Regions from separate parts of the Homo sapiens genome. Here all the other regions are reported to be linked to region 3. Evidence: microRNA targets listed by miRTarBase, many of them from high-throughput screens and not tested one by one. Region 3 holds a microRNA gene; each other region holds the end of a gene's coding sequence.
The links. Region 3 holds the annotated microRNA hsa-miR-892c-5p (UAUUCAGAAAGGUGCCAGUCA, at 2,854-2,874, shown strand). A microRNA usually pairs through its seed, bases 2 to 8, with sites in the 3' UTR of a target mRNA and lowers its output. Matches are read on the target gene's strand: a 7mer-m8 pairs with bases 2 to 8, a 7mer-A1 pairs with bases 2 to 7 and ends in A, and an 8mer does both.

Region 1: the mRNA of LHX6 is a reported target of hsa-miR-892c-5p. Seed matches in the 3' UTR shown: 7mer-m8 at 4,513-4,519, 8mer at 4,505-4,512 and 7mer-m8 at 4,074-4,080.
Region 2: the mRNA of WDFY3 is a reported target of hsa-miR-892c-5p. Seed matches in the 3' UTR shown: 7mer-m8 at 426-432.
Region 4: the mRNA of PRAMEF11 is a reported target of hsa-miR-892c-5p. Seed matches in the 3' UTR shown: 7mer-m8 at 7,494-7,500.

The regions. Positions count from the first base shown.
Region 1 is chr9:122,199,832-122,207,902 of GRCh38, forward strand. It overlaps LHX6 (LIM homeobox 6), which reads right to left. Exons shown (of 10, transcript NM_014368.5): 10 at 2,751-4,949. The coding sequence ends at 4,929. It overlaps MORN5 (MORN repeat containing 5), which reads left to right. Exons shown (of 5, transcript NM_198469.4): 5 at 54-252. The coding sequence ends at 100. Among named protein-coding and RNA genes, the nearest start is that of LHX6, 25 kb to the right of the region's middle. RefSeq lists a silencer at 28-240.
Region 2 is chr4:84,669,252-84,673,251 of GRCh38, forward strand. It overlaps WDFY3 (WD repeat and FYVE domain containing 3), which reads right to left. Exons shown (of 68, transcript NM_014991.6): 68 at 346-3,740. The coding sequence ends at 3,617. Among named protein-coding and RNA genes, the nearest start is that of CDS1, 88 kb to the left of the region's middle.
Region 3 is chrX:145,987,599-145,995,669 of GRCh38, reverse strand. MIR892C (microRNA 892c) reads left to right here and starts at 2,844; the gene lies at 2,844-2,920. MIR890 (microRNA 890) reads left to right here and starts at 1,319; the gene lies at 1,319-1,395. It overlaps MIR888 (microRNA 888), which reads left to right and starts at 810; the gene lies at 810-886.
Region 4 is chr1:12,817,213-12,825,145 of GRCh38, forward strand. PRAMEF11 (PRAME family member 11) reads right to left here. Exons shown (of 4, transcript NM_001146344.3): 4 at 7,393-7,933. The coding sequence ends at 7,730. LINC01784 (long intergenic non-protein coding RNA 1784) reads right to left here and starts at 6,011. Exons shown (of 2, transcript NR_146629.1): 1 at 5,824-6,011; 2 at 5,474-5,727.

The DNA.
Region 1 (8,071 bases), not on the chromosome of region 3:
GGAAAGGTCCCAGCGAGCACCAAGCATGACCAGCTCTTCCTCTTTCCTTGCAGATGATGACGAGCATGAGTGGATCACCCGTACCTGTCGAAAGGGCTAGGATGAGATCGTGGGTCACAGGCCCGAGCCGTGAACTCTGTGGCTGCCTCCACCAGAGGTTTCCATCTGCCCTACTAGCATTGGCTGCCCTGGGGGACGGGCTGTAGTTCTAGAACCTGATTTTAACTCAGGAATAAAGACTTTCTGCGGTCAGTGGCCCCAGGTGTATTTTCCTTAAAAGATTGTTCCTCAGTGGGCATCATTTAACCTGGACAAAATTGTGAGCTATAGATATTCCCAGGCCCCACCCTAGACCTCCCAATCAGAATCTCTGGGAATGGGGCCTAGTAATTTGCATTCCCAGCATTTCTCATGCATCTGAACGTTTGAGAACCATCTCTTTATAATAATAGATAGATGTAATTGAGCACTAACCGGCGCAGGTAGTGCGTGTGCATTATCTCTGCTCCTCACAACAGCCTTGCAAGGGGAAGGCTTTTGCAGATGGGGAATCTGAGGTTCAGAGAGACAGAGTGACTTGCTTGGTCTCAGAGGGCAGTAGGACCTGATCACTGTGCCCAGTCCTGCAGCAGTCATGGGTTCTTAGTTTCTGTTTCTGGTTGGGCCAGTGAAGCCCCTTCCTCATCCCTCTTTTCTGCTTATCACTAGAGACAGAAACTAAAAACCATGGCTTCAGGCTGCTGAAAGCCTAAAACAAAACAGAACACAAAAACAACAACAACAAAATAAGGTGGGTTGGACAAGCTTGTTAGGCCCAAGAATGATTACTCAGGCCTGTCTTTCCCTCTTGCCAGCTCCCCCATTTGAACCTCACATCCTAAGCACAGAATCAGCATGGTGCCATAGAAAGAATGTGGCTTTGGAGGCTGGGTGTGATGGCTCACGCCTATAATCCCAGCACTTTGGGAGGCCGAGGCCGGCAGATCACATGAGGCCAGGAGTTCGAGACCAGCCTGGCCGACATGGTGAAACCCCATCTCTACTAAAAATACAAAAATTAGCCGGGCATGGTGGCATGCGTCTGTATTCCCAGCTACTTGGGAGGCAGAGGCATGAGAATTGCTTGAACATGGGAGGTGGAGGTTGCAGTGAGCCAAGATTTCACCACTGTACTCCAGCCTGGGTGACAGAGTGAAACTCTGTCTAAAAAAAAAAAAGAATGTGGCTTTGGCATCATATAAAAAATGGTTATAATAATGCTTTAAAACAATACAGTAGCCGTGTGGTTAAATGAGATAATACAAGTAGGGGACCTGGCGCATAGTAGGTATTCAATATGTGTTTGCTTTAAAGAACAACTTGTTAGTGGTGCATATAATCATTCCTCAAAATCATCCCAGAGGTCACATTTGTCAGCTAAAAATCAGAAGAGGAAGCGACAACATGTTCCAGGGCCACATATGGGCCATATGCATCCTGGATCTTTGTCTAACTGTTCCTCCTTAGAGGTTGCTAGATCCTGTTACCCCCTATGCTCTGTCCCCTGGCTCACCAGGGCTGCCCAGTGGAGGCAGAACAGTGAGTCAGGCTTGGAAGGCAGGAGAGGAAATTGGATCTCAAACTAGGGACCCAGAGGCGTCATGCTGGGGCAGAGCCAGGAGTCAGCGGGAAGGGAGGCCTGGGCTCACTCTCAGCTGCGCTAGGGAGCAGACTTGGGAGGATCACCTCTCCCCAAGACGCCAGTCACCTTGGTAGATAGGGTTGTGCTCCACCGGTGGTTTCCAAACTGTATTTTGAAAACAGAAGGTACATTCATGTAAAGAAACACACAACTAAACTCATATATTTTCAAAGATACACATATATCTAAACACTTGAAAATGGATTGGAAGAGCAGATGTATGAGGAGCAGAAATGGAATCAGGGATGGGAGATTTAAAAACTAGTAGAATAGAGAGAGGGGCCCTGCAGTCAGTGACTCATGTGCACCATGAGCTGAGGTTTCTGAGCAACTCATTTCTGTGCAGGGCCACAGCAGGCCAGGGAAGCCTCTGCATTCTGCAGGGCAGCTGTGCTCTCCACACCAGGAGCTTTGGCTTGAGCAAATGACTCTGCTGCTGAAAGAAATTTGACAACCACCAAAAAGATGCGCTCTCTCACTCCTCAGGTTATGAGGTGGTGGCTCTGGAGCCTGACAAAACCACTATAAGACCCAGTCTTGTGCAGAACCTGGGGCCCTGCTGCCCGTTCCATATTCCCTTAACTTCACCTTATTAAATTCTTCCCCATCTTCCAAACACGCTCCTCTGCACCTCCCTCCCTGCCCCACCCTCTTGCTTACCTATTCTGTGACCTTCTCATCTGATAGGATCCAGCTTTAACACCCACCCCCTTGGCTCCCACAGTATTTGCCAGACTGAGAGCTCCTCCAGGACAAGGTCTGGCTGGGAGCCTTTTCTCAGTGTGCAGAGCCAGCACAGGGCCCAGCAGAGAGTGTATGTTCAGAGACTGGAACAGAGGGCATCAAGCAGCCTGATTTCCTCCAAAGCTTAGATAAGAAGCAGGTGTGACTGAGTACTTACAGAAGAAACCCATCGTCAGGCCTCCACAATCCATTGTTTACTAACTGGGAAATGGTACCCGTTTCCCAGGAAGGAGGATTACACTGTCCAGCAGCCCACATATTCTGGGAGCCAGGGACCTAAGCCCTTCACCAGAGAGCAGGAAAGAAATGGAATCCCATCATGTTCTGGATTTCAGTGCCAGCACTTCTACTTGCATTAACTTTATTACACAAATAAGACATTTACAAAGCACGACATGAAAGGTATGTAACAAAACAGACATTGGTTTTACAAAAAAAGTGCTTACAATTTTTTTTCCGTGTGTGTGTTTTCCCCTTTTTTTGTATTTAAATAAATAGTCTTGATGGCCTGTACGTTCCCAGGCTGCTCTTAACAGGGTAGTGGAGACATGTTTGAACTGTAACATGCTACGGCCACATAATCCACGCAAGGAATAGACCCTGAGGAGAGGCTCAAGGCAGAGTGTGTTGGGTGACCCTGGGTAGGGCTTGGTTGGCCACTTACCACATGGTTGCCACTGGGGCCTTGATGATCAGGAGCAAAAATCAAAGGAAAGATTTGAGCTCCAAGGCCAGGAATTGGGCCCTGGTTGCTCCTGTTAATGTCAGCGCCTAGCACAGGGCTGGGCACAAGTTACCACTGACTGAGTGCTGAGCTGAGCTGTACTCACCACGTTCTGAGTGGTGCCTGCTCTTTGCCCTCAGTCAGCTGTCACTGTCTTTGGAAGGGAGAGGAAGCAGGTTCCCTTCTTAGGCTGCACCTGTGCCTACCCTGCCTGTAGATCCCAGAGCAAGAATGACCTATAGGCTTTCATGTTAAGTGCCAACGTCAAGCATTTGAACTCTGAAACCTTATCCAGACTCAGTGAAATAGAGCTGCCATTGATTAGCAATGTCTGCCATGGGTAAAAACAGAGACAATGGCTGCGTATGTACCATGAACTTGCTTTCCCTGTCTTAGAGTCTCCTTCCAAAAGCAACATAACAGGTTAACCACAGCAGGAAGGCGGACTTGGGCTAAAACATGCTGATTAGCAACCTCTAGTGGAAAATGCATCAGGACACCAGGTAATTCTAGAATTACAGGATAAGCTTGGGACAAATGGGCATCCCCTGAAAACATAAATCATGGTCGTGTGTAGCCTGAGCCCTTTTGTTTGGGGTGGAAGAGTTGTAGCAGGATGGATGTTACGCAGCTGTGTCTGACCTCTGTTCTCAGGGGTGGGTGGGGCTGGCTCCAGGAAGTATTGATTGGGAAGCTCAGAGGCACCAGTTGGAATCCTGAGCTTGGCACACTCACCTAGGCAATGGGCACCCTCTCTCTACTTAGAGATGGATCCAGGGTTAACATTCTGACTGCCATTTCACTGGGCTCTGTTCCCTCTCCCCTATAAGGGATTCCCCTTCCATTGAGAAGACCTGGCCCAAGCACCACTATGAGAGGTCAACAAGTGGCCAACAGGGGTCCCCAACTCTAACCTGTCCAAACATTCAGAAGAGTCATGGCACAGATCGAATACCATCGCTGCTATGTTTCTTACATATATGCTGGATAATTAGGTGGGGGTAGGGTCTCTCCCTGACCCCAGAGTTTTCTCTTTCCTCTCCTTAAAATGGCTAGTGCCTCTTCTGGTCCAATATGTCACCGCCCTCTCCTTGATTTCCAAACCAATGGGGGTCTTTCTTCTCCCCATTCCCTGTCTATCCCCGCTGCCTCCTAGTCTGGGCAGGCCTCCATCTCTGCCCTATTAGGCCTCTCAGGGTTGGTCACTGTCTCTTCTCTTTCTGAATTAACTTGACATAACCAGACAGATGGAAATGATAAAATTAGAACATAGCTTTCCTTTGGGGACATCCCACAAACACTGTAGAGTTTTCCAGACAAAAGCAACAGAGTGGATAACATTGGGGGTTGTCAGCTATTCAGAATTCAGAGATGGTTCCAAGGAAGTAGTAAATAAAGGCCAATGTGGGGGAAAAAAACCTGTAAATGAGAAGGCCGTTGGCATCGCACAATTCAATTCCGCCTTTTGTTATTGTAATCAGCTGAAGTTGAAGAGGACTCCTGTTTAAATGGGAAAAACAGGCTGTTTCCACCCTGATTCCAGATTTCAGGGAGTTCTGCCTTCCAAGAGGAGGACTCTGTGGTGCTCCTGGTGGGTTCTGGTTCTCAGCAGGAGAGGGAAAGGCCAGGCCTCGGGAACCGACCTGGTGGTGGGCAGGATGGCGGACGGGGGTGGATGCGGAGGTGGGTGGACTCCTGGCCGCAGCTTGGACACTGGATCTCAGCGGCTGAGGGGCAGCTGTGGGGCGCCCACGGGCAGATGCGGAAGTGCCGGCAGCGTTAGTACTGAAAAAGGATGACCTGCAAGAGGAGGGCATGGGAGGTGGCTGAGCTGGGGGCCTGCCCCACCCTGCTGCCCCCCAGAGAACCTCAAAGGCACAGAGAAGAAGGGTGGACTCAGGGCCCAGATCTGAGTTTAAATCCTGGCTCTGTCAACTGACTTGCTGTGGGACCTTGGGCAACTCACTGCACCTCTCTGAGCCTGTTTCCTCATCTTTAAAACAAGGATGACAAAATCTCTCTCTGAGAATCAGAGAGATTCAATGAGATACAACAGCAGCAGCAAAAGCCTTCTGGGCATTTCACCCTGCACCTTCTGTGCCTGATTTCACGGAAGCCGCACCATAGCCCCGTGAGGGAGTTCCAACGTTCTGTTTTACAAGGAGGGCACTCAGGCTCAAAGAGGTGGAAGCGAGTGAGCTCGTGGGCACACAGCGAGGAGGAGGACCTGGCACTGGAGGCCAGGCCTGGCTCACAGCAAGCTCTCCCTACCAAAGCACATTGCCTCTACCTTTCCAAGGTCACCGTGACCATAGTGGCTGACTGCTTATTACCCACAGGGCCACGGGCTAAGCACTTCACATGCGCTTAATCTTCACATGCACGAAGCCTAGAAGTGCGTGGCTCAGACACACTGGGTGCCCGATACACAGTGGGAGATCAGGACTGTCTGTCCCTTTCCCCCTCCCACTCCCACCTCTAGCACTTGGTTGACATCTCACTGCTGCTGACACAGCCAGTTCCCTGAAGTTCAGGTCAAGGATCACTGGCTGGCTGGTCAATGGCAATGTGTCATTTCACAGTAAAGTGTGAGGGGCATCTGGTGGGCATGACTACATGGCTGTTCCCTTTTCTGATCAGGAATGTTACTTGCCCAGAACTGGTTATCACAAGGAGGTGATGGAGGAAAGCAATGATGATGATCACCATAATAGTGATCATGATCATAACCAACACCTGGGGGCATTTTCTGTGCACCAGGCTCTGTGCTGGGCTCCTTACACACATTATGCATTTATTCTCTGCAGCAACCCTACGGAGTGGGAACTATTATTATCCCCAGTTTGCAGATGTAGAAACCGCAGCTCAGAGAAACTAATTGCATTCCCAGATCTCACAGGGGAGGTGGCAGAGCTGGGATTCCGAGCTGGCCTAACTCCAGAGTGGCCAGGGTGGGCATTCCTTCCCCACCCTGGCCACTGCTCCACTTTGGCCTCCAGAATGCCTGGCTTTTAGCCCTTATTAGGAAAAGCTCTCTCAAGAGTGGCGACCCTGGTAGGACCCTTCCCCTCCATGGGTCTCAGTCTCCTCCACTGATCAATGACAGCTTAGCCCTGATTTCTAAGAACTTTCCAAGTGTTGGATTTGTGGGATCAGGGGACACAACCAGGAAGAAATGTGGCTCTGGAACCTCACAGGTGTGTGTGGCCAAATGACGATGCGGTGGAGGCAGGGGATGCTCCCCTGAGTGCTCAGAGCACTGTTCTCCTGGCCAGGCCAGTGCTGGTCTAGATGAGTGGGTTCAGGGGCCAGCCCCATGGGGACACTGAGTCTCCTCACAGCTAGGCAGGCTCAGGCCTGGAAGGACTTGGAAGAAAGCCCAGACAATCCTGTGCTGGCCACACACATACCACACCCTGCCGCCCACCAAGCCCCAGGAATTTGAGAGTTATGGACAAGAAAAGTCCCTAGGAGCTGGCGGAAAGGCCTGACAGTGAGAGGACAGAAGGTCATGAAGGAGGGAGAGACACTTTAATGCAGACTTTCTGGGTGCAAAGTTGGGGACACAGCCCAGCAAGGGAAAACTCTGGCTCAGCAGCCAAATCCAGAAGCCAGAAACTGTCTATAGCCAAATCTGACAGCCCCCAGCATGGCTCATCCCCCAGGCTGAATGAGACAGAACCACAAGCTTAGCTGAGCAACCAGGAGGCAAAGGCTCCTCTCCAAGCACTGAGCCCAGCCCTCTGTACCTCCAGGGCCCATCCCTGCCCTCCACATAATGTCCAAGACCCTCTTTCCATGATCCTTTGTTCTGTGGCCCCTGTCGGCTCTCCCCACTTCCCTGGACCTCAGCCACACTGAACGTCCCCCAGGGTCCCCTCCGGCCCAAGCTCCTCCATGCCTCTGGGCCTTTGCACATGCGGTTCTCTTGATGTGGAACACCCTTCTTCTTGTCCCCTGTCTCTCCCCTAGAGCTCACTGCCTCCTCTTCTGGGTCCTCTAAGGTCAAGTTTCTCGCCTACTCCAGCTGCCCATTCCCCTGCAATGTAACTGCCCACACCCTGTGCTAAGCCACAAGCTCCCTGAGGGCAGGGATCATGTCAGCTCACTTCTGCAGTCCCAGAGCCAGGTCTAATAGGATGAATCCCCTCCCACAGGAAGGGACAGCTCTGAGGCAGGTGGCTCTAGGATCCCGGCCAGTTCTGCCCATGCTCACATTGTGATTCTGGATGAGCACTGCTCTGTCTGAGCCTCCGTTTCTGCAAGTGTGAAATGGAGGTCATCGCAATCACCCTCCCAGGGAGACTATGAAGGATGAGGTCGGAGAGAGGGCTGTGTACACAATGAAGTGCTGCACAAAAGGAAGTGATTACTGAGCCGCGCAGACTTCAGAGTCCGACAGACTCGCTGCATCCCTGGACAAGTCATGTCACCTCTCGGAATCTGTTTATCTCTTTACAATGAGAAGGCCATCTCTATGTCCACAAAGTGGCTGGGAGGTGTGAACCAGATGCCATGTGAGAAGTAGCTGCCTTGAACAGAAGGAGCTCAGCAAACGGCAGCTCTTCCTATGGATGTGACAGTCTCAGCGGCGATGGTGTTCCTGGGGCATGCTCACTCACTACAGATTCTGCAGGATTTTACGTTAGGCACTACCATTTATTTACAAATGTATCTGTCCAGGGCTGTCTGTACCTCCACACCATACACATTCTCCTGTGGTGCCCGGCACAGAGAGCTCAGTACATACTAGGTGTACTGAGCTCAATCAGGAGGCTGAGCCAGAGGTACCATCCTAAAGGAGCTGTCCCCACCCCGGCTGCCCGTTAGAATCACACAGGCTGAGTATTACACTCGCAGATCCCTATATCCCACCCCAACAGACTCTCTGAGAGCGAGGCTTAGGAATCTCTGTATATTTA
Region 2 (4,000 bases), not on the chromosome of region 3:
TTGAGGGTCACGTCTCCCAGAAGGGGCTTGCTTCTCCTTACTGCCATCCACATACACTCATTAGCCCTGGGAATCCAGCACAATTGAGAAGCTCAGACTGCAGAAAGCCTGATTTTTAAGGATGAGTCAAACTAGAACTGGAACTGGAACCTTAACAGCCAATACTTCTGCAATCTTATGCAGGTGCTTCTGAAAGTATTTACAACTAGAAAAGAACTACATAAAGTTAGGGAGTTATTAGATCTCTGTTTTTCCTTCCCTGAATAACTGACTTAACAACTTTTCTTTTTCTTTCTTTTGGTGGTAAATAGGTATTTATTTGAAATGAAAAAAAAATTACTTAAGTACCTGGACTATTGCATTTAATCATGTATTGTAATTGTGTTACTCTACCTTTTTGCATCAGAGACAAATATACAATGAACATTCAGATATCACAGACTGCACACTAGATAGTAATTCTTCAGGTCTTTTACATAACCACCAAGAAACAGATATTGGTTTCTGCAATATAGTATAAAAGTCCACAATCAATCCAGTCTTAGCCAGTATCTTCAATTTACTTCTGTTGCTGTACAAATAATTGGCCATTACTAGGGCTTACAAGTTAATAACAGGACAAAAAATATACATTGCACTGACACAAAAAGTCAGCTGTGTTAAGAGTCATGCAACAAGTAACCAAACTTGCTGAAATTAAAAATACTTTCTAAAAACAGTTTTAACGGCATAAATATTTTATACACAGTTCATTTACCAAAACAAAATGTATTTAAATGATACAAAGCAAAAATAAGTTTCTACCAACTTTATACATAAGAAAGTGCAAAATAACTTATCTAGAGTGTTTTGCTATTATCCAGACGGATGGCTGCTATGGGCAGCTATTCTCTTCTTCAAAAGCATGACATTAGAGTTGCACACTACATAGAAATGTTAGAATACATGGATGAACAAATGAACAGGTGGATGGATGAATGAACAAACTACAAAGATCAGGCAGGAGCCCTATGAGGTACTCTCAGAAAAAGAATGCAGACCATACTAAGGTAGATGTACATGTTGACAATAGATGTTGGTAAATAAATTTACATGGAACACAGAAAGATATCCAGAGAAATAATTAGTTTATGTATGTGAGTGTACTTGTATGTGTGAGTGATTCTGTTGATTTCTGCATTAGAGGCAAAAAGAAAAGAAACCCGATTGAACAAAACAGTTGCCCACAGCACCAGCTGCCAGAGGAAATACTACCATGAGGGTTTTGGTTTCCACCTTCTAGTTATGGAAGTTCTGTTAGAAAGTTAGTAATGGAAGTTGTGTCGGAAAGTTTAAAAGTGTTCATCCCATATAGTTTCCTATTACAAAGAGGAATAACCTTTAAGTAACTACACACACACATTCATATATTCAAGTCTTTAAAGAACACCTCTGCCACTGGGTATGGGGTAAACATGATTCATGGACAAAAGGAGGACGCTTCTTTTAAAAAGTGTAGAATAACACTGCTACAAATCATCTAGAGGGCCAGACAGGGGCAAGGCCCACAGTTACATAATAGCACAATTTCTGCAACTGTTGAACATCAGCATTATTTATTAGAATTGAAGATGGTGATGGGGGAGGGAGAGTGTGGGGGGAGTAAGACACAGAAAGGAAAACAGAACACAACTTTTCTTTAAATTAAAGTATTAATGCCGATAATCCTTTTATTAACAAGTATATTTGAACTTTTAGAAATGGAAGTGTTTTAATCAATTTTGATATGTAATCATAAATAGACTGTAGGCTCAAACCCAGGTAAATAAAGATTTAAATTTAGTAAGCGTAAGGCACTAAAGCAGCCTTTCTATTTTCTCTTGGAGACCTAGTTATCATATCAGGAAGAACAAATTTGTTCTTAAGCTGGTTTCAGCCCATCAGGTACAAGATCACCATTGTACCAAATGCCTATTTTTGAATGCATGTGCATATATGTGCATTTTAGTGCATAAGTGTGCCTCTCACCAGGGCCTAAAGATGGAAAATTGGAAAAGCCAAAGCCGCTGTCCTTTGCATGATGCCTCTGTGAGGGTGTGAAGGCCTTTCCTTTCGCACCTGTGAAGGTGTGAAGGCCTATCTTGGGCCATTAATGATTCTATATTTTTCAAATCACAGGGCTTTTAGAATTGTTCATAATGTTATCACTAAGTTTCTGAAAATGTTAAAATCTAGATTAATTGTTTCATTTTTAATATATATTATATATATATATATATGTACATAACACACATTTAAAAAAATCCCACCACCAAGCCTTTTCTCTGTAAACTAATCTCTTAGCCCCTTCCAGCTTTAATCCCCCTGGATTTGTGTGTTCTGTATCCAACTAGTAGAACAAATTAAATAACTAAATATTAAAATACTGTAATTATATTCATAGCAAAAACAAAAAAATAGACATTGATACAGTATAAATCTCACTGTTTTCAGGTAGATGACATTAAATGGTAAAGGTTAATTTTAAGCAGTTCTGACATGATTCAGTTTTACAACAAAGTTTATATGTTAATTCTGTACACTTCTTTCTTTCCTTTTTTTACCCCTTGTTTGAAAATAAGCTATAGTAGAACATTAGTGTCACCAAAGACACATACTTATTATGTTCTATGCAAGATAAGCTAATTTTGGGTTACATGCAAATATATTTCCATTAGTTGAGACAGGGCTGTTTCCTGCACTACACTGGTCATCTGACCACCTTTCTGCAATGCTAAGAAGGTATTCTTTGACCAAACAGCAGTCCACATACAAGTTTAAAAGGGGCCCTGTTTATGTAGGAACAACACTGAGGTGGTGCGTAGCCAGGTACAAGACGCCCAAATATTTCCAGTTTATCTTACGGCTGGACTCCTATTCTCCCACACTGTTTCCTAAAGAAGGTCCACATTATTTTGGTTACTAGCCTAGTTTAAGTGGAGATACTGTGGGCAACTTGAAAGAAATGACATCAGGCACACAGGCTGAGCTTGAAAGGAAAAAAAGACCACAGATAATGTCTTTGGGGATTTAAAAAAACATATTTATAATTAATTGGTAAGTGAGGGATGTCAGACAAACCATAAGTAGTTCATTGAGTTAGTGGTTTAGTTTGAAGTTTCATGTTACAGGCAGTTAAGTCCTTATTTAGAAAAAAGGCCTTTTATATCTATTTACAATATACATAGTTACTTGCAAAGAAGTCAGATTTACAACCATTTTCTAAAAGCCTTTTTTGTTGTTGGTTTTTCCAAATAAGGATGAGTAGCTCTATAAAAATGAGATGCAAGAAAAGAGAGTTAATAAGTGAGGATTTTTCTCTTGGAGACAGCTACTGTCATCAGGGAGAACTGGAGGTCGAAAGTGTTGCTCCTAGGAACCACCTCATATTCTTCTTGTGCTGTTCACCTGAATCGCGTCTGCCCCATTCCTGTACTCTACACCCGTTTTATTCAATGATCCCTTTGAATTTTAACACTTCAAACACGTGGTATGAAGAGATGTGTAAACGGAGACTGTTTTCAATGCCTTCCAAGCTGGGACAGGAGAATCGGGAAGGGGTCTACAGACCATGGTCTCCACTCAGCTTGTTGAATCTTCAACAATTTCGAGGCCCATCTTCTGAACCTCTCTCATGCTGTAAGTTATAATAACAGTTCTGACAAACACGCACCGGGGATGAGATTTTCAAGCGTTTGATTTCAGATTGAAAGCGACTGCACCTAAAGGAAAGGAAAAGTCAATTAATTATAGGTCTTCTCCATGCTTGATCATGGGCACCGGAAACATTAATAATCGAATGGAAAGCTTGCAGTAAAATGCCAAAGGCCATACTGGTTTGTGTTGTGTGGCTGAACAAGGACTAAAAGGAAAGCTGTATTATTTGTTTCAGTCTATGAAGAAAAGCAGTATTAAACCAGGGAAGCTATTTCTTTGACTGACAAGAATTAAAAAAACGAAAACAAAAAAACAGAGTTAAGAT
Region 3 (8,071 bases):
AAGATAAAAGATCAATATATGTTTTGTAGAAGAGGAGAAATCTGGAAAAAGTGTGTTCACTACTGGTCTTGGTAATTATCTGGCTAAACAAAGCAGATGAGAGGGTACTCACTGAAGGAAGCATGCAAGTTGAAGGGCAATGAGCTGGGTATTCTTTGGGACTTATGAATAAGTTAAGTTCGGGGTTCAGGCGCCATGCTGTGTTGAGGGGAGTGGTGAAAGCTGTAGGGTATAACTGTGCAAGATAGGGCAGTACCTCCACAATCAGCCATGCTGTGTGCAGTGCCCTGCCCAGAAATGTGTCAGTCGCCCAGATTATATGTCACTAGTTCCTTTCCAGGTAGAGTAAGGCACACCAAGTATAAGTTTGTAGTGGCCTTTGGACCCATGATAGTGTAGAGTTGCAAGAGCCTTCAGGTACCTTCCCTGAGACCAGCAGATCTTAGTTGGCCATGTGGACCTCAGGCATCCTCAAGATAAGTTAAGTGGCTTGTCCCTAACAACATGAGCACCTACAGGTTATAGATCAGAAAGGCAAGATGAAGATAATTCCTACTAGAAAAATAGAAAATGGGAACAATCTTGCTCTCTTCTGGTCCTGGCAATCATCCAGATAAACATAGAGTAGGTGAGAGATTCCTCACTTAGGGAGGCATATACCTTGGAGGGCAGTGGGCTAGACATGATCCAGGACTGATGAATAAATAAGTTCAGGGTTCAGACATCATGCTGTGCTCAGAGGAGTGATGGAAGCTACAGGTGGAGAACACGCAAGATGCGACAGCACCTCCACAATTAGCCATGTTGTGGGCAGTGCTCTACTCAAAAAGCTGTCAGTCACTTAGATTACATGTGACTGACACCTCTTTGGGTGAAGGAAGGCTCACCAAGTACACTTTTGTGGTGGTCCTCAGACTGGTGAGGGGGTAGACCTGCAAGCAACTTGAGCTGCCTTCATTGATCCCAGGAGAACCTTGGAAACCACCTGGAATTCAGGCATCGTCAAGATGATCATTTCTAACAACGTGAGCACCTACAAATTAGAGAAGGCAATGACAGAAAAGATAGTTACTTCCTAAAAGGAGAAAACAGGAACAATCTTTTCTTGTCTTGGCCATCATCCAGGTGAACATAAATCAGATAAGAAGGTCGTCACTGAGGCAGGCATGCCAAGTTGGAGGGCAGTGGGCTGGAAATTCTCTAGGAATTAAGATTAAGTTCAGGGTTCAGGCATCCTGCTGTGTTGAGTGGGGTGATGAAAGCTGCAGTGCACGATGGTGGATGATGGGGCAGCACCTCTACAATCAGACATGCTGTGGGAAGTGCCCTACTTGGAAAGGCATCAGTTGCTTAGATTACATGTAACTATTCCCTTTCTGAGTAGAGTAAGTCTTACCAAGTACAAGTTCATGGTGACCTTCGGACAGGTGATGCAGTGGAGTTGCTGGAGGCTTTAGTTGTCTTCAGTAAGGCCGGGAGATCCTAGCTGGCCACCTGAACCTTAGGTGTTCTCAAGGTGATTTCAATGATGCATTTCTAACAATGGAAATACCTATTTTTCAGAGAATAGAAAGATAGAAGAAATGAAGATACTTCCTAATAGAAGAACAGAAAACGAGCTTGTTCTCTCATGGTCCTGGCAACCATCTGGGCAAATATGGAGCAGTGAGCATGTCTCATTGAGTGAGACATGCGTCATGGAGGGCAGCAGACTGGACATTCTCCTGGACGGGGGTTGACCTTGCAAGATGGGCCAGCACCTCCGCTATCAGACATGCTGTGTGCAGTGTCCTACTTAGAAATGTGCCAGTTTCCTAGATTATACATCACTGGTTTCTTCCTTGGTAGTGTAAGGCTCAACAAGTATAAGTTTGTAGTGGCCTTTGGACCCATGATAGGGTGGAGTTTCAAGAGCCTTGAGGTACCTTTCCTGATACCAGGAGACCTTAGTTGGCCATGTGGACCTCAGGCATCGTCGAGATATTCTAAATCGTCTGTCCCTAACAACATGAACACATGCAGGTTATAGATGAGAAAGACAAGATGAAGATAATTCCTACTAGAAAAATAGAATGAGAACAATCTTGCTTTCTCCTGGTCTTGGCGATCACCCAGGTAAACATAGAGCAGGTGAGGGGTTCCTCATTTAGGGAGGCATGTACATTGGAGGGCAGTGGGTTAGACATGATCCAGGACTGTTGAATAAATAAATTCAGGGTTCAGGCATCATGCTGTGCTCAGGAGTGATGGAAGCTACAGGGGGAGAACATGCAAGATGGGACAGCACCCCCACAATTAGCCATGTTGTGGGCAGTGCCCTACTCCAAAAGGGGTCAGTCACTTAGATTAGATGTTTCCAGCTCCTTTCTGGGTAGAGCAAGATTCTCCAGGTACAATTTTGTGATGGCGTTCAGATTGGTGAGGAGACAGACCTGCAAGCACCTTCAACTGCCTTCATTGATCCCAGGAGAGATTTGGAAGCCACCTGGAACTCAGGGATCCTCAAGATGATTTTAATGATCCATTTCTAACAATGTGAGCACCTACAGGTTAGATAAGGTAATAATAGAAGAGATAAAGATACTTCCTAAAAGAAGAAGAGAGAACGGGAACAAGATTTTTTTTCTTCTCGTCTTGGCCATCATCCAGGGAAACATAAATCAAGTGAGAAGGTCTTCATTGAGGCAGGCATGCCAAGTTGGAGGGCAGTGGGCTGGAACTTCTCTAGGACTTAATAAATGTGTTCAGGGCTCAGGCAGCCTGCTGTGTTGAGGGGAGTGATGAAACCTGCAGTGCGTGATGGTGGGTGATGGGGCAGCACCTCCACTATCAGTCGTGCTGTGGGCAGTGCCCTATTCAGAAAGGTGCCAGTCACTTAGATTACATGTCACTGTTTCCTTTCTGAGTGGAGTAGGGCTTACCAAGTACAAGTGTGTGGTGGTCTTCAGACAGGCGATGAGTTGGAGTTGCTGGAGCCCTAAGTTGTCTTCAATGATGCCAGGAGATCCTAGCTGGCCACCTGAACCTCAGACATCCTCTAGATGATTTCAGTGGTTCATTCCTAATAATGAGAATACCTATATGATAGAGAAGAGAAGGATAGAAGACGTGAAGATACTTCCTAATAGAAGAACAGAAAAACAAGCTTGTTCTCTCGTGGTCCTGGCAACCATCTGGGTAAACATGAAGCCAAGTGAGAGTGCTCTTGCTGAGGGAAACATACATGATGGAGGGCAGTGGGCTGGACATTCTCTAGGATGGGGATTCACATTGCACGATGGAGTAGCCCCTCCCCATTCGTCCATAATATGTTCCAGAAAGGTGCCAGTCACTTAGATTATATGTAACTAGTTCCTCTCTGAGTGGACTAAGGCTTACCAAGTACAAGCATATAGTTGCCTGTAGACCCCTGATGTGGAGTTCCAAGGGCCTTGAGCTGCCTTCCCTGATGCCAGGAGATCCTATTTGGCCACATGGACCTCAGGCATCCTCAAGATAATTCTACTGGTGCATTCCTAATGATGTAGACTCCATCATGTTAAAGAAGAAAGTGATAGAAGAGATGAAGATACTTCCTAGTTGAAGAATAGAAAACGGGAACAAGCTTGTTTTCTCCTGGTCTGGGCAATCATCCAGGTAAACATAGAGCAGGTGAGAGGGCACTGAGGGAGACATGCAAGTTGGGGGCTTGTGGGCTGGGCATTATTTTGAACTGATGAATAAATAAGTTCAGGATTCAGGCATCATACCGTGCTCAGAGGAGTGATGAAAGCTGCAGGGTATGAAAATGCAAGATGGGGCAGCACTTCCCCTTTCGACCATGCTGTGTTCAGGGCTATTCCCAGAAAGGTGTCTGATATGGTTTGGCTGTGTCCCCACCCAAATCTCACCTTGAATCATAGTTCCCATAATCCCCATGTGTCATGGGAGGGACCCAGTGGGAGGTAATTGAATCATGGGGGCGGTTACTCCCATGCTGCTGATCTCATGATAGTGAGTTCTCACAAGATCTGATGGTTTTATAAGGGGCTTTCACCCGCTTTGCTCAACACTTCTCATTCCTGCCGCCATGTAAAGAAGGACGTGTTTGCTTCCCCTTCTACCGTAATTGCAAGTTTCCTGAGGTTTCCCCAGCCATGCTGAACTGTGAGTCAATTAAACCTCTTTTTTCAATAGAAATTACCCAGTCTTTGGTATGTCTTTATTAGCAGCATGACAATTGACTAATAGAGTGCCAGTAACTTAGATTACATGTAATTGGTTTTTTCTCTGGGTGGAATAAGAGTCACGAAGTACAAGTTTGTGGTGGCCCTCAGACTGGTGAGGGTATAGAGTTACAGGCACCTTGAGATGTCCTCATTGATCTCAGGAGATCCTTGGTGGTTAGCTAGAACTCAGTCATCCTCAAAATAAGTTTCATGGTCGTTTGCTACAATGTGAACACCTACGGGATACAGAAGATAAAGATATTTCCCAAAAGAAGAAGCGAAATCAGGAACAAACTTGTTCTCTCCTGGTCCTGGAAATCATCCAGATAAACATAGAGCAAGTGAGAGGGTCCTCAGTGAGGCATACATGCAAGTTGGAGGGTAGTGGGCTTGGGCATTCTCTAGGACTAATGAATAAATAAGTTCAGGGTTCAGGCATCATGCTATGCTCGGAGGAGTGATGAAAGCTACAGGGAGAGAACATGCAAGATGGGGCAGCATCTCCACAATTAGCCATGCTGTGGGAAGTTCCCTACTCAGAAATGTGCCAGTCACTTAGATTACATGTCACTGGGTCCTTTCTGGGTAGAGTAAGTACAAGTTTGTGATGGCCTTCAGACTGGTGATGGAAGTGGAACTGTAATCACTCTTGAATTGCCTTTCTTAGACCCAGCAGAGTCCTGAGAGCCATCTGGACCTAAGGTGTCCTCAAGACCTTTAGACTCTAAGGGTAGCCAGTGGACCACTGGGGGTTAATCTCAACTGAAAGAAAATAATTTCCCTAAATGATCTTCTTCCTCTTCTAATAATAGAATTAGATGACCAATCCAGGTTTGGGGTTTTGCAGGAAAAATTTCCAGCTTTCCTTGTAGATATCTGGAAAAGATATGGTAAGTTTTTGCCACACAGCTTTATTTGTCATGTGGCAAGAATATATAGAGATTCATGTTCAACTGTAATTTCCAGGATGTGGTGATTCAATTTTGTTTCATATACTTATTGAATATGTATTATCTTTATTTTTTAATTTGCTCGTTCTGTATGACATTTTATGTATATCCCTGCTTAGATAGACATGTTTGTTTTCATTCAATTCAAATCTTGAAGTTCTAAGAAGACACACTGGGGAATGCAGAGGTTAATGGCTTCTAATAGTTCAGCTGCAATTTCAAATGATACTGCAGGGTTTCATCAGCTCATTCAGTTGCTTTGAACTCACCATCTCTTTGTCATACATGATGATACTCTTTGAATAATTGCTTTTTATGGTGACCGTACGGTTTGGTTTCTAGTATTCCAGAAATTCATTATCTCCTTTTATAAGGTCACTCTGTTGAATTTCACTAGTTGGGGAATGCATGTGATGTTGTGAATTCAAAGTTGTAAAATAAGCAACATTCTCTTTGCATCATGTGGAACAAGGTTGCTTCAAGTTGATATGTTTGAGTCTCCTAATCACCTAGCTCCCAGACTCCCTAGCGTGAATGAAATTAATTTTCACTTAAATGCAGGGCTTCATTTGCTTGTGAGGAATTTGCCTATACAGCGATGGATGTAAGTGGTATGTGAATATAATCACTAGTGTGTCTGTCAGAATCTAGGTTACAAAAAAAATTAACATATATCTCTTTGCCTATATTAATAACAAATCTATCATATATAGATAGTAACAATTTTATAAGACCTGGTATATCGAAGATGAATTTAATCCTTGAATATGATATAAATACCCAGACTGGTAGATAAGTTAACATTAAGTCATTATTAATGCTTAATAATTACAGTTTTACTCAATTAAAACTGATAATTTTCATACAGGTGGGAAGCATTGGTGAGAGTGTGGTTAAGAGACTTAACTGTGACCTCAGAGAAAGAATTTGGGATATTTTTTAAATTAGTTTTTAATTATAAATTTAGTTTTTCCTCACAATAACCGGTGAATCCAAGAGATATATACAGACAAATTTTTATATTCCATATATATTTTTAACAGCATTCACTCAATGGTACGTTAATATTTAAATCCAGTTTCTCATTTTAAACAAACATGTATGTGAAGCTTAATTGTATGTGTCAACTTGGCTAAGCTATGATACCCAGTTTTGATCAAACACCAGTCATGTTGTTGTTGTGAAGGTAAATTTTACGTGAGATTAATATTTAAATAAGTAGACTTCACATAAAGCAGATTATCATTTATAATATGGATGGGCCTCATCCAGTGAGTTGAAGGCCTTAAGAGGAAAAGACTGAGGTCCCCAAAGGAAGAAGGAATTCTACTACCAGGCTGCCTTTTAGACTTGAGTTGCCAAATCAAGCCTTCTATGATCTTCAGCCTGCCAACCTTTTCTGTAGAGATTGAACTTGCTTGCTCCAACAACTCTGTGAGCCAGTTCCTTAGAATAAATCCCTTGTCTCTCTGAGTCTCTCTCTCTTTCTCTCCCCTGCCCTTTCCCTCGCCTCTTTCCCTCTCTTTCTTTCCGCCTTCTCTCTTCATACACGCACCACTGATTGGTTCTGTTTTTCTGAAACCATAGTGTAATATCTACACTAAGTCACTATTAGAGAAGCTGATACGTGTAATATGCCTTCATTGTCCAACAAATGGGAACATTCACTGAGTTCTGCATAATATGAAAGATGTATACATATATATCATATAACAAATGTGAAAACATTGACATCTTTCCTCATGAAATGCTTTTTCTAGTTTAAGTTTCAAAATTTCACTACTTAGTGGGGTTTAATTTAGGATTAGTGATATAAACTAGGGATAGATATTTTTAACTATTTATGTGTTTTCCCATATATCATGGCAACACATAATTATTTCCTAGCAGACTTTTTGAGTTTTTTGGGGAAGTAAAGCCGTGACTTAATCCATTCTTGCTACTATAAACAAATACCATACACCAGGAAGTTTATAAACAGATATTTATTTCTTACAGTTCTGGAGGCCGGGAAGTCCAAGATCAAGACAACAGCAGATTCATTGTCTGTCAAGAGCCCATCTTCTTGCTGTAACTTCACATGGCAGAAGGGACAAGGCTGCTCTCTGGGGCTTCTTTTATAAGGGCACTAATCCTATTCATGCAGGGTCCACCTTTATGACCTAATAATTTGCCTAATAACTCCACCTCTTAATGCCATCACATTGGTTCTTAGGTTTCAACACACGAATTGTACGTAAAACATAAAATTCAGACCATAGCACTCCACGTGTTAATTTTCTAACTTTGAATGATACTTCTTATTCTTCCTTGTTGAGAATTTTCCTTGATAATCTATTTAATTTACATTTAGGCATTAAAAATATCATTGCTTTGTCGGATTTCCCTAAGTGTAACATTTATCTTTCTGACTTTGCTTTTGCAATGAGGAAATGTGTGCACACTGAAAATCTTTACAGAATCGAACTCAGTCATCTTTTGACGTGGGAGCATGACATAGTTTTTGTTTACTTCAGGAAAGTCATGCTATGTTCTTTGTAGATATGTAGAATAGATGTTATAAATTTATTCCTAGCATCTCCTTTTCTTTTTATGTTAATTAAATTCACATCTCCATCATCTTTGCTGATTATTGCAGGTAGACAGGTAACATGCCTAGTTTTGCCAACTCACTTCCCTCTCAGCTTTCATTATTTTTTAGCTCATTTAGTTGGATGATTGCATTCAACGGTTTAATGAATTAGAATTCAATAAACTTTCTGAACCCATTGACCTGTTAGGAACTGCTTTATCATGGAATAGCAAGTTAGGTGGATAGTACCTGAGTTCCTTTTCTCCTTTGCTTTGTTTTATTTTTATTTTGAAAGTTTTGCCTTTTTTAGTGAAGAATGCTTTACCTAAATTATCTATTAA
Region 4 (7,933 bases), not on the chromosome of region 3:
GGGGTGTTGAAGTCTCCCATTATTATTGTGTGGGAGTCTAAGTCTCTTTGTAGGTCTCTAAGGACTTGCTTTATGAATCTGGGTGCTCCTGTATTGGGTGCATCTATATTTAGGATAGTTAGCTCTTCTTGTTGAATGGATCCCTTTACCATGATGTAATGGCCTTCTTTGTCTCTTTTGATCTTTGTTGGTTTAAAGTCTGTTTTATCCAAGACTAGGATTGCAACTCCTGCCTTTTTGTGTTTTCCATTTGCTTGGTAGATCTTCCTCCATCCCTTTATTTTGAGCCTATGTGTGTCTCTGCACGTGAGATGGGTTTCCTGAATACAGCACACTGATGGGTCTTGACTCTTTATCCAATTTGCCAGTCTGTGTCTTTTAATTGGAGCATTTAGCCCATTTACATTTTAGGGTAATATTGTTATGTGTGAATTTGATCCTGTCATTATGATGTTAGCTGGTTATTTTGCTCGTTAGTTGATGCAGTTTCTTCCTAGCCTTGATGGTCTTTACAATTTGGCATGTTTTTGAAGTGGCTTGTACCAGTTGTTCCTTTCCGTGTTTAGCACTTCCTTCAGGAGCTCTTGTGGGGCAGGCCTGGTGGTGACAAAATCTCTCAGCATTTGCTTGTCTGTAAGGAAATTTATTTCTCCTTCACTTATGAAGCTTAGTTTGGTTGGATATGAAATTCTGGGTTGAAAATTCTTTTCTTTAAGAATGTTGAATATTGGCCCCCACTCTCTTCTGGCTTGTAAAGTTTCTGCCAAGAGATCCGCTGTTAGTCTGATGGGGTTCCCTTTGTGGGTAACCCGACCTTTCTCCCTGGCTGCCCTTAACATTTTTTCCTTCATTTCAACTTTGGTGAATCTGACAATTATGTTTCTTGGAGTTGCTTTTCTCAAGGAGTATCTTTGTGGCATTCTCTGTATTTCCTGAATTTGAATGTTGGCCTGCCTTGCTAGATTGGGAAAGTTCTGCTGGATAATATCCTGAAGAGTGTTTTCCAGCTTGGTTCCATTCTCCCCATCACTTTCAGGTACACCAGTCAGATATAGATTTGGTCTTTTCACATAGTCCCATATTTCTTGGAGGCTTTGTTCATTTCCTTTTATTCTTTTTTCTCTGAACTTCTCTTCTCACTTCATTTCATTCATTTGATCTTCCATCACTAATACCCTTTCTTCTAGTTGATTGAATCAGCTACTGAGGCTTGTACATTTGTCACGTAGTTCTCATGCCATGGTTTTCAACTCCATCAGGTCCTTCAAGGAATTCTCTGCATTGGTTATTTTAGTTAGCCATTCTTCTAATTTTTTTTTCAATGTTTTTGACTTCTTTGCCATGGGTTCGAACTTCCTCCTTTAGCTCAGAGTAGTTTGATCATCTGAAGCCTTCTTCTCTCAACTCATCAAAGTCCTTCTCCATCCAGCTTTGTTCCATTGCTGGTGAGGAGCTGCATTCCTTTGGAGGAGGAGAGGCACTCTGATTTTTAGAGTTTCCCATTTTTCTGCTCTGTTTTTTCCCCATCTTTGTGGTTTTATCTACCTTTGGTCTTTGATGATGCTGATGTACAGATGGGGTTTTGGTGTGGATGTCCTTTCTGTTTGTTAGTTTTCCTTCTAACAGTCAGGACCCTCAGCTGCAAGTCTGTTGGAGTTTGCTGGAGGTCCACTCCAGAACCTGTTTGCCTGGGTATCAGCAGAAGAGGCTGCAGAACAGCGAATATTGGTGAACAGCAAATATTGCTGCCTGATCGTTCCTCTGGAAATTTTGTCTCAGAGGAGTACCTGGCCATGTGAGGTGTCAGTCTGCCTCTACTGGGGTGTGCCTCCCAGTTAGGCTACTCAGGGGTCAGGGACCCACTTGAGGAGGCAATCTGTCCGTTCTCAGATCTCCAGCTGCATGCTGGGAGAACCACTACTCTCTTCAAAGCTGTCAGACAGACAGGGACATTTAAGTCTGCAGAGGATTCTGCTGCCTTTTGTTTGGCAATGCCCGGCCCCCAGAAGTGGAGTCTACAGAGGCAGGCAGGCCTCCTTGAGCTGCAGTGGGCTCCACCCAGTTCCAGCCACCTGGCTGCTTTGTCTACGTACTCAAGCCTCGGCAATGGCAGGCGCCCCTCCCCCAGCCTTGCTGCCGCCTTGCAGTTTGATCTCAGACTGCTCTGCTAGCAATGAGTGAGGCTCCATGGGCATAGGACCCTCTGAGCCAGGCATGGGATAAAATCTCCTGGTGTGCCATTTGCTAAGACCATTGGAAAAGTGCAGTATTAGGGTGGGAGTGACCTGAATTTCCAGGTGCCGTCTGTCACCCCTTTCTTTGACTAAGAAAGGGAATTCCCTGACCCCTTGCCCTTCCCAGGAGAGGCAATGCCTTGCCCTGCTTTGGCTCACGCTCGATGCACTGCACCCACTGTCCTGCACCCACTTTCTGACACTCTCCATTGAGTTGAACCTGGTACCTCAGTTGGAAATGCAGAAATCACCCGTCTTCTGCACTGTTCATGCTGGGAGCTGTAGACTGGAGCTGTTCCTATTCGGCCATCTTGGCTCAACCCCCTAGTTAATTTTTGTGTCTTTAATAGAGAAAGGGTTTCATCATATTGGCCAGAGTCGTCTCAAACTCCTGACTGAAGTGATCCACCCACCTTAGTCTCTGAAAGTGCTGGGATTACAGATGTGAGCCACTGTGCCTTGTCAATTGCTGGACTTTCATGATACACATGGAGTATCCACAGTATCACAAGGGCCATTTTTTCCATAATCCAATTTATTTATATTATTGGTAGTGAGCTAATGTTGATGTCGCCAAGGTAGCAATTTAGTGACTATACCCATGATAAACGTTTCCATGCATCACGTGGTCAACAGCATTTGCTACCAAGTGCCACGTTCCATGCTCAGCAGTAGGAACATAGGATGATTGAGACAAAGTTCCTGACCTTTAGCAGCAATATCGAACAAGTGAGATTGTCAAGAAAGAAGAAATCATTGTAAAACATACCATACCCCTACAATTCCGTAATCATGCTCCTGGATATTTAATGAAATGAGTAAACCCACAGCTGGATGTTTATAGTAGCTTATTCATAATCACTAAAACCTGGAAGCTAGCAAGTTGGCCTTCAGTCAGTGACTGGATAAGCAAACTGATCCATCCAGTCAGTGAACTATTATGAAGCCTTAAAAAGACATGAAAGATTCTTAAATGCACGTTATTGTACAAGTGAAAGAAGGCAATGTGAAAAGACTCATCCTGTTAGACATTTGCCTTTTTCTATGGAGATAGTAGAAAGCCCAGTGGTTGTGAGGGGTTGGGAGTACAATGGGATGAATGGGAAGAGGACAGAGGACTTTTAGGGGAACAAAACTAGTCTCCATGATGCTCTAATGGTGGATATGTGTCATTATCCCTTTGTTAAAATCCATAGAATGTACAAAACCAGCAATGATCCCCCATGTGAACTATGGACATTGGGTGATAATGATGTGTCCCTGTGGCTCATTGATTGTGACGAATGCTCTGTGCTGGTGTGGGTGCTGATCCTGTGGGGGTGCTGTGTATTGAAGGGGGAAGAAGGTAGATGAGAACTCTGCAGTTTCTGCTTAGTTTTTCTGTGAATCTAAAGCTGCTATAAAGAAAAAAATAGGCTGGGCGTGGTGGCTCACGTCTATAGTCGTAGCATTTTGGGAAGCTGAGGTGGGTGGATCACCTGAGGTCAGGGGTTCGAGATCAGCCTGACTAAAATGACAAACCCTGTCTCTATTAAAAAATAATAATAATTATAATACAAAAATTATCCAGGTGTGGTGGTGCATGCCTGTAATCCCAGCTACTCTGGAGGCTGACACAGGAGAATTGCTCGAACCCTGGAGGCAGAGGTTGCAGTGAACTGAGATCGTACCACTGCACTCCAGCCTGGATGACAGAATGAGACTCCATCTCCAAAATAAATAAATAAATAAACTCAAGGCTGGGTGCGGTGGCTCATGCCTATAAGGGCTCACTCCCAGCAATTTAGGAGGCCGAGGCAGGTGGATCGCTTGAGCCCAGAATTTCAAGACCAGTCTGGGCAACATGGTGAAACCTGGCAAAAATAAGCCAGGCATGATGGTGCATGCCTGTCGTTCCAGCTACCAGGGGGACTGAGGCAGGGAGATCACCTGAGCCTAGGAGGTCAAGGCTGCAGTGAGCCGTGATCATGCCACTGCACTCCAATCTGGACGACAGAGTGAGACCTTGTCTCAAAATAAAATAAAATGAAATAAACTCAAGATTTTTAAAAACTGTAATGTTTCCTTTCAAAGATAAAATTGTATTGTTCTAAATATATTTTAAAGAAGAAATGATTATTGTTCAGTGTCTTTAAAATTAGTTTTCAAAATCTCATTTGTTTTGACATTTCAAACCAAGTTAAGTATTCTTTTTCTCACCCTCCTTGGGACGGAGTCTTCCTCTTTCACCCAGGCTGGAGTGCAGTGGTGCATTCTCGGCTCACTGCAACCTTTGCCTCCCAGGTTCAAGCGATTCTCTTGCCTCAGCCTCCTGACTATCTGGGATTACAGGCACCTGTCACCACGCCAGGCTAATTTTTTGTATTTTTCGTAGAGACCGGGTTTCATCATGTTGGACAGGCTGGTCTGGAACTCCTGACCTCGTGATCTACCCACCTCGGCCTCCCAAAGTGCCAGGAATACAGGCATGAACCACCACACCTGGCCATTAACCATTCTTAAAATATCACGTTGCATTCTTTCAAAGTTCTAATCTTTCATATACATAAATTACAACACAAATAGTTATACTCTAATAGTATTCACACTATAGTAAATTTTTTTTTCATGCTCTGTCGCCCAGGCTAGAGAGCAGTGGCGCGATCTCGTCTCATTGCAATCTTCTCCTCCCGGGTTCAAGTGATTGTCCTGCCTCAGCCTCCTGAATACCTAGGATTACAGGCGAATGCCACCACTCCCAGCAAATTTTGTGTATTTTTAGTAGAGACGGGGTTTCACCATGTTAGCAAGGCTGGTCTCAACATCCCGAGGCTGCCTCGGCCTCCCAAAGTGCTGGGATTAGAGGTGTGAGACACCATGCCCAGCCATAATAATAAATGTTATTTTATCTTTTTTTTGAGATGGAGTTTTGCTACTGTTGCCCAGGCTGGAGTGCAATGGCTCAGTCTGAGCTCACCGCAACCTCCACCTCCCAGGTTCAAACGATTCTCCCGCCTCAGCCTATCGAGTAGCTGCAATTACAGACGTGTGCCACCACGCCTGGCTATTTTTTGTATTTTAAGTAGAGAAGGGGTTTCTTCATGTTGCTCAGGCTGGTCTCAAACTCCCGACCTCAGGTGATCCACCTGCCTCAGCCTCCCAAAGTGCTGGAATTACAGGCATGAGCCACTGCACCTGGCTCATAATAGTACATTTTTAAAAACACCATAAAATATAATCCTTGCAACACTCAATTATACCATCTGGTCCGATCTATCAGCAGATGGCACCCGAGACATACGGATTGGAAATTTTGATCTTATTATGAATGAATCCAGTCCAGAAATGCCCACCCTGCCCCCTGCTGGCTCCTGGGGCTCTGCTCTTTGGGGGAATCATGATGAAATTGTGGCAGAGAGTAGAAGTTGAGCCCCATTGCATGCCCTGAGTTCTTGTTGCCTCTCTATTATCAGGAAAAGGAGGTGAGATTGAAAGATGAAAAATGCTGGGACTTCTGCTGAGAAGAGAAAAAAGAACAAGATGTATTGATCTTACTGTATGCCAGACCCCATGCCAAGCCCTAAACATGAACCATCTCATTGGATCCTACCAAGGTCCCATAAGCTGTTGGATATCATCATCCTCATTTTACAGGAAGCTGAGGCTCTAGGCTAACATCCCTGACAGCAACACCAGCCCCTGAGTACACAGCAGGATCCTTCACTTGGGTGCCCACTATGCAGGCTTCCTCACCACAGGGAAGGTCACTCATCACCCACAGGCACTTGATCGTTATCCACCCTTTGATGATGTCAGATTCCAGAACATGCTGCACTAGTCACTTCCTTCATAGGGAGAGAGGGAAGGTGTTATGAGAAAATCTCTCATCAATCTGACCTAGCTCCCCAAAAAGATGTAACTTTTAAAATGTCAGATGGAAATATTTAAAAAGTGTTACATGCCTGTATAGTTTTAGTATTTTACTTAAAGGGAATGTGGCTGTCTTTACTGGCTACAACAAGTTTAATTCAAGAAGGGCTGCTGGTCATCAGGGGAACAAGCAAGGGTTGGTGCTGCCCAGAGTCTCCAGCTAATACACAATATGGACATCCCCTTCCAGGGCAGCGGGAAGAGACTGGCTCCTTGTGCAGTGAAGCTGACATCCACCAACTAAGGCTTCTGGAAGCATGTGGAGACTCACAGGGAGTGGGCAGGGTCTCAGCATCTGGATAGCGGTGAAAGACGCTGAGAAGAAGGTGCTTTCCGTGTGGATTGGCTCACTGTTCTTGCCCAGCAATGTTCCAGGCCTTTGGTGTCCACCTAGTGTGTATTAACCCACTGAACAGCCACAGAAACTAACAAGGAGTTAACAGACATCTAAAGAAGTGAAGAACTGGAGGAGGCCAAGCCAAGCGTGGTGGTCCACGCCTATACTCCCTGCATTTTGGGAGGCCAAGGCAGGAGAATCACAAGCTCAGGAGTTCCAGATCAGCCTGGGGAAGACAGCGAGGCCTTGTTTCTACTAAAAAAAAGTATCCAGGTGTGGTGGCTCACACAGCTGTAGTCCTAGCTACTCAGGAGGCTGAGGTGGGAAGATCGCTTGAACCCAGGAAATTGAGGCTGCAATGAGGTATGATTGTGCCACTGCACTGTAGCCTGAGTGACAGGAGACCTTTAAAAAACAAAAACAAAAACAAAAACAAAAGCCTGACACAGTGGCTCACACCTGTAACCCCAGCACTTTGGTAGGCCTACTTGCGTGAATCACCCAAAGTCAGGAGTTTGAGACCAGCCTGGCCAACATAGTGAGGAAACCCTGTCTCTACTAAACATACACAAATTAGCTGGGCATGGTGGTGCATGCTTGTAATCCCAGCTACTTGGGAGGCTGAGGCAGGAGAATCATTTAAACCCCAGGTGGAGGTTGCAGTCAGCTGAGATGGCACCATTGCACTCTAAACTCCAGCCTGGGCGACAAGAGTGAAACTCTGTCTCAAATAAAAGAATGGGAGGAAACTGGTTACAATAACCAAATTTCATTTAAATGCCTTGATTTTCTTGGGCTGCATCTTATTGATTGGACAACTCAGTCAGTGCCTTTTGTTTTTTCCATCAATAACTGAAGATTCCTGAGGCTTAAACTGGAAAACAGGTTACTTAATAATAGAGGGCACCAGACAGATTCTGCTCAGTTTTCCTTTATTTCTGATTGTTTCTTTACAACCATCCATGCAAGAGTAACTCCCTCATGTATTCTCAAGCCTGAATTCCACTCTAGACATTCAGATTCCCATTTTCGACTCTACAGGATACAGGTTCCCAAAGTCCCATTGAATCCATGGCAACATTTCCCCCAAGTCCTGCCCCTGCTTGATCAGCTTTCCTTTCCCACTTTCAGAGCCCATGTGTGAAACGATGGGTTCTGTGCTCCCTTTAGGATGTACCTAAGACCTAGGTTTTAGTTTCCAAGTGTCCAGAAGAAAGCGTTTGACATACCCATCCAAATAGGCAGGCATTCAACAGCAGTATTGATCTGCCTCCAGGTCATAAAATGACCTGTCGCCATGGTCAGGGCAGTTGTCAGTACAGAACAAGATCCTCTTGGGGTGCCTTAAGTGCCTCACTTTCTTCATCAGCTCAGCCCTAATTTGAGCAAATCTGCTCCAGCAGAGAGTACCATCAGCACCATAACTTTCCTGCGGGGCAGGATACAGCTCCAG